Linked DNA regions of Homo sapiens: region 2 is linked to region 1. Evidence: fine-mapped expression QTL. A gene starts in region 1. The other region holds a variant in brackets. All regions are shown on one strand. Distances are from middle to middle. Region 1 holds the start of ADAM32 (ADAM metallopeptidase domain 32). Region 2 holds the start of HTRA4 (HtrA serine peptidase 4).

Region 1 (2,907 bases):
AACGGGGTTTCACCATGTTGACCAGGCTGGTTTCAAACTCCTGACCTCTGGTGATCCAACCACCTCGGCCTCCCTAAGTGCTGGGATTACAGGCGTGAGCCACCTCACCTGGCCTGTTGCCTTGTTTTTGTTCATGCTATTAATTTCAGGTGTAGATTGCCCTGTTGAAATTGCGTGCATCCATAAAAATCACATCTTCACTTTAAATGTCTTAGTTCCCCAAGTGAGATTTTTCTCTGTTCCCATGAGGCCTTTTAGTTTATGTGTTGGCCTATTATGTAGTATGAGAAATTAATCCATTCTTTGGGATTTGAAAAGAATGAAAAGCTAATGCATACAGATGGAGACCAGGTGTGAGGCTGGGAAGGAGGAGGCATTGCAGTTCCAGGGAGTAAAGCAGTGTTTAGGAAAAACCCAAAGTCAGAGCTGCTAAAACACGGGATAGGAGAAATTAAGTGGCAGGTTCCGGTCTGAGTTCAGAAAAATTACTATGCTGAGGCTAGAATTTTCTACTGGAATGTAATTACTGTAATTGTGGGCAAGAATCTCTAAATCTTTCACTACATGAAATAAGTATTTATTGCACTGAGAAGTTTCTGAACAATAGAATGACATCACATGAGTTTTAGCCAATGGCCTGCGGAGAACCAGATTGGAGGAAAAAGCCTGGTTGTGAAGTCCATTTGGGCAGCGTCAGTGGGGAAAAAAATGCAGCTGGCGCTCTTCAAAAATATGAAGAGCTGGCATTTCATATTGAAAAGCGGCTCACTTTTCCCTTCTTTGGAATGTTCACACATCTGGCTAAATAGTTTTGAAAAAATATTAGAAACAGGTTTGGCAAATATGAATATATATTTAGGTGTGTATATAGATTTTAATTCAGAAAGTATTACACATTCGCTTTTGAAAGGACCTAGGAAGCCCCGAACGGTGGCAGATGCCTGTAATCCCAGCTACTCAGGAAGTTGAGGAGGGAGGATCACTTGAACCCAGGAGTTCGAGACCAGCCTGGGCAGAATAGTGAGCACCCCCGTCCCAAAAAGAAAAAAAAGCAACTGGGAAGTGTCTGGTGCAGGAGAGCACACGCTGACTGTGAATAAGTGTGTCAGTTCTTAAGGTCCAGCAACACAAAGCGAAAAGTTAGTGGAGGACTACGAGCGCGATCTCGACAGAGGGCGCTGGGTGGTCAGTGGCTCCAGCAACCACGCGGCTGGGGTGCGCCGGGAAGGGAGCTGGATGTTTTAGCCTCGGGGCGCACGCTGCGGGCCCTTCGTGTTCCGGACGCTAAACACCGAGAGCACCCCGTCTCCGGGGCCTCCGGAGAACGCTGTCCCATGAACGTGCGGGGAGCGGCCCCCGGCGTCCGCGCGTCCCCGCGTCCCTGGCAATTCCCGACTTCCCAACGGCTTCCCGCTGGCAGCCCCGAAGCCGCACCATGTTCCGCCTCTGGTTGCTGCTGGCCGGGCTCTGCGGCCTCCTGGCGTCAAGACCCGGTGAGCCAGCCCAGACCCTGACACTAGTCCGGGCGCTCGTCACACTGCGGCCCGACTCCCTGCAAAGCCCGGGGCCCTCCCTGTCTGGGTCCCTTTGGTCCTGTCACCCTGGCAACGGGGCCTTTTCCAGGGGATTAGGCGCCCCGTCCGGATGGAGAAGCGACTCAGGGCCCAGCACCAGGGCTCACGCCTGTAATCCCAGGGCTTTGAGAGACTGAGGCGAGCTGATTGTTTGACCTCGGAGTTGGAGACCAGCTTGGGCAACACAGCAAGACCCCATCTCTACAAAAAAATTTAAAAAAATGTTCCGAGGTGGTGGTGCGCACCTGTGATCCCAGCTACCCGGGAGGCTGAGGGAGGAGGACCACGTGAGTCCAGGAGGTGGAGGCTGCAGTGAGCCAAGATCGCCCCCACTGGACTCCAGCCTGGGCGACAGAGATCCTGTCTTTTTTATAAATTAAAAAAATTATTTTTGTGTGTGACCGAGTCCCTTCTGTCGCCCAGGCTGGAGTGCAGTGGGCAACAGTAGGCAACAGAGGGAGACTCCAGATCGTAGTTCTCCAGAACTATGAGGAAAATAAATTTCTGTTGTTTAAGCCATGCAGTCTACACTATTTTGTTATGGCAGTGGGAGCTGACTAATATAGTACTTAACAGCAAAATGATTGAAAAACTGTAAAAGTTCATTAGTAAGAGAACTGCTAAATAAACTGTGGTTATCTCCAAACAATGCAAATGGACCACTGTGGAGAGGGAGGAAGTAAGACATGCCATGTACTGACTCTGGCTGACAAGATTCAGAATAGTATGTAATAAGAGAAGGAAAAAAATACGGGCATATCCAAACATTTTACTTGCATGTAAGCCTCCCTGGTGATACTGTAAATTTTTGAGAACTCTTCCTACTCTTCTTCCTATCCTGCCATAATTACCTCTGCAGCATAGCAGAGGTGTGGTCAAGGCCAGGGTGTCAGCCTGGTTAGATTAGGGTGAGTGTTCTCTTCCTGGCTTGTAAACAGCTACCTTCTCCCTGCGTACTCACAGGACCTTTTCTTTGTGTACAGGGAAAGACAGGAGGAGGAAATTCTCTGATGTCTCATCTTATAAGGGCATGAATCTCATCATGAGGGTCCCACTCTATGCCTAAAACCCTGATTACCTCCCAAAGGCCATAACCAAATACTGTCACATTGGGGGTTAGGGATTCAACATAGAATTTTGTGGGATACATTCAGTTCATAACACATACAAAATTTTAATGCAGTGGTTGTCAAAGTTTTTGGGTTCAGAACTGCCTTATACATGAACAATTTTTGAGATTCTCAAAGAGCTTTTGTTTATGTGGATTTATATCGATGTTTAACATATTAGAAATTAAAATAGAAATGTAAGAATGTGTATTTCATTCATTAAA
Region 2 (2,907 bases), 130 kb before region 1:
AGCCAGAACATCGTTAATGTAGTTCAATATGAGATAAATTATTATCTTCAATGAAACAAGCTCTAAAAGCATTCCATTCCTAAATTGTATTTCAAACTTCCTATTTTGTTGATATTTCTTAACTTCTGGCCAGTTTTGGACCATAATCTTTTAATGTGAACCAAAGATGGTACGTATTTGACCAAAGCAGTTAGTTTTAAATGTATAAAATTGAACCAAATGGAAAAAATAGGTTGGGGATGCAGTATAGATTAGTGACTAAGTGCATAGGCTCTGGAGTAAATCTGAGTTTTTTTTTTTTTAAAGGAACTAAAAAATGTACTGCATTTTCTTTGTGGAATAAAAGCCTTGCCTGAGTTGTGCTATTTTCATAAGGCTTTTGAAGTGGTCTTGACCCACTGTGTGTAACAGTATTTCAGGTGGTCCTCCCCATGGCTGAATAATGCCATCCATTATTCTTTAATTTTTATTTTTAGAAACAGTGTTTCACTCTGTCACCCAGGCTGGAGTGCAGTGGCCTGATCATGGCTCACTGCAGCCTGGACCTCCTGGGCTCAAGTGATCTTCCTGCCTCACAGCCTCCCAAAGTACTCAGATTATAGGTGTGAGCCACCACGCCTGGCCACCATCTATTACTTTTGAAATCTTCAAAAGACTTGCTTACTCAATGTCAGCTGATGGTTGGTAAAAATAATTTGGCCTTTAGTGTTAAGTGAGACATCATAAGGGTATTGAGGTATACATTATGGAGATTGATGTCAGGTCAGAATATTGGAGTTATACATCTATTTCTGAGTTGAATACTCAGCTCCCACGAGAAAGAAAGTAGTTTTAAGGTCCAGCTTCTTAGTCTACTTGAAGCAAATTTTTTTTCTTTTATATTTCTGAATATAAATATACTCTTATATGGGCTAAAAAGACCCCATGAATAAATAGCAGGTTCAGTAGTTGAGGAGTGGAGTTTAGTAGGTTTGTTTTCAGTATAAATTAGATAACATGTGGAGGTCACAGCATTTTGGAAATTGAGTGTCCCCAAGTGAGCTTTGTTTATAAACTTTC[A/G]AAATGTCGGAAGTGGACAGGTTTGTTAAATCTTGTCTGCCAGCACCCTTTTCTTCCTTTGTTCCTTTTCCTCTCTGTGTTATTGCCTGCGGCAGCCAGTCCTTCATACTAGATAGAGTTCAGATAAAGCAAACGTTTGGCAAAAACATACTGTTTGACCTCCTCCCCCTCTGCTTATGAAGGGGTAGCATGATTCTGTGTTTTAAAGCAGTGATGTTTCAGCTGTGAAATGCACTCGCTGTAAGCTCTAGGCTGAGTGCATGGAAACTGTTACGCTTCTCATTTTATGTGATCTCCTAATTGGTATGTAGCAAAAATTTTCTAAAACTGTTTTGTGGCTTGTTTTGTAATAAAACCATGTGAAATACTGAAATATGGTCATGTGTTTTCCTAATACTGACCTTCTGACCATGGGTGGGTGAGCTTTCTTATCAGTCTGCCCTCATTGTCGGTTTTAGGGATTTCAGGAGGTAGGTTCCTGCTCCGGGTAGGGCTAGAGACCTTCCCCTCATTGCCTGGGGGAGAACCTGGCTCCGGGGCGCCGACGGGGGCGGGTGGTAGGGGATGTACGGGTGTGTATATGCAGAGGTATGCCAGGCTCTGCCCCTTAAAGTTTGGGGGCCGGCGGAGGCGGCGCCGTGGCCGGGAGAAAGTGTCTCTCATTTAGGAGGGTTTGCAGGTCCAGAGTAAAGTCACTGAAGAGTGGAAGCGAGGAAGGAACAGGATGATTAGACCTCAGCTGCGGACCGCGGGGCTGGGACGATGCCTCCTGCCGGGGCTGCTGCTGCTCCTGGTGCCCGTCCTCTGGGCCGGGGCTGAAAAGCTACATACCCAGCCCTCCTGCCCCGCGGTCTGCCAGCCCACGCGCTGCCCCGCGCTGCCCACCTGCGCGCTGGGGACCACGCCGGTGTTCGACCTGTGCCGCTGTTGCCGCGTCTGCCCCGCGGCCGAGCGTGAAGTCTGCGGCGGGGCGCAGGGCCAACCGTGCGCCCCGGGGCTGCAGTGCCTCCAGCCGCTGCGCCCCGGGTTCCCCAGCACCTGCGGTTGCCCGACGCTGGGAGGGGCCGTGTGCGGCAGCGACAGGCGCACCTACCCCAGCATGTGCGCGCTCCGGGCCGAAAACCGCGCCGCGCGCCGCCTGGGCAAGGTCCCGGCCGTGCCTGTGCAGTGGGGGAACTGCGGGGATACAGGTGAGCCGCGGGGGCGCGCGCCCTCGGAACACTTTCTAACTCTGGAGGAGCGTAAAGGAACAAGACCTCACTGAGACCGCACAGTTCGCGCCTGGTCCTCCTGCGTCATTTGCCTCCTGGATTCGACACCTCTGTGTTCCTGATTTCCTTTCCTCCTTAACAGGGGCTCTTTACCGGCTGCTACGTGGTTTCTCCCTCCCCATGCACCTTTTGAACACTGTCTTGCCTTTAACATTTTTCCAACTAGGATAGCAGGTCTGGTTCCCTCGAGGCGTACTCTTGAGCCAGTATTTTTTCATAGGGACCAGAAGCGCAGGCCCGCTCAGGAGGAATTACAACTTCATCGCCGCGGTGGTGGAGAAGGTGGCGCCATCGGTGGTTCACGTGCAGCTGTGGGGCAGGTAAAGGAGGAGGAGGAAGACCTCCACTGTCCCAGCTAATGGTTTCTGCGTGCCTACCTGCTCCAGACCCTTCGCAAGCGTCATTTAATCCTAAAAAACCAGTGAGGAAACTGAGACGTAAAGAGGTTGAATAACCTGTTCAAGGTCATTTAACCAAAGAGCAGAGGCACAAGGATGCTGACTTCTAAATCCCAGCTCCCCCTGCCCACTTAGGTGGCTGGTGCTTTTTCCCCCTCCTGCCACAGACAAAATTTAAG

The links. PIP is the estimated chance that this variant, and not a neighbour inherited with it, causes the effect.
Region 2: its variant is the best candidate, but not a certain one, in a credible set for the expression of ADAM32 in visceral fat (GTEx, PIP 0.67).

What each region holds. Positions count from the first base shown.
Region 1 is chr8:39,106,341-39,109,247 of GRCh38, forward strand. ADAM32 (ADAM metallopeptidase domain 32) reads left to right here and starts at 1,394. Exons shown (of 25, transcript NM_145004.7): 1 at 1,394-1,493. The coding sequence starts at 1,436.
Region 2 is chr8:38,972,481-38,975,387 of GRCh38, forward strand. PLEKHA2 (pleckstrin homology domain containing A2) reads left to right here. Exons shown (of 12, transcript NM_021623.2): 12 at 1-1,432. HTRA4 (HtrA serine peptidase 4) reads left to right here and starts at 1,748. Exons shown (of 9, transcript NM_153692.4): 1 at 1,748-2,249; 2 at 2,551-2,650. The coding sequence starts at 1,784. RefSeq lists a silencer at 1,915-2,144 and an enhancer at 2,325-2,384. The variant A/G (reference allele first, on the strand shown) is at 1,060.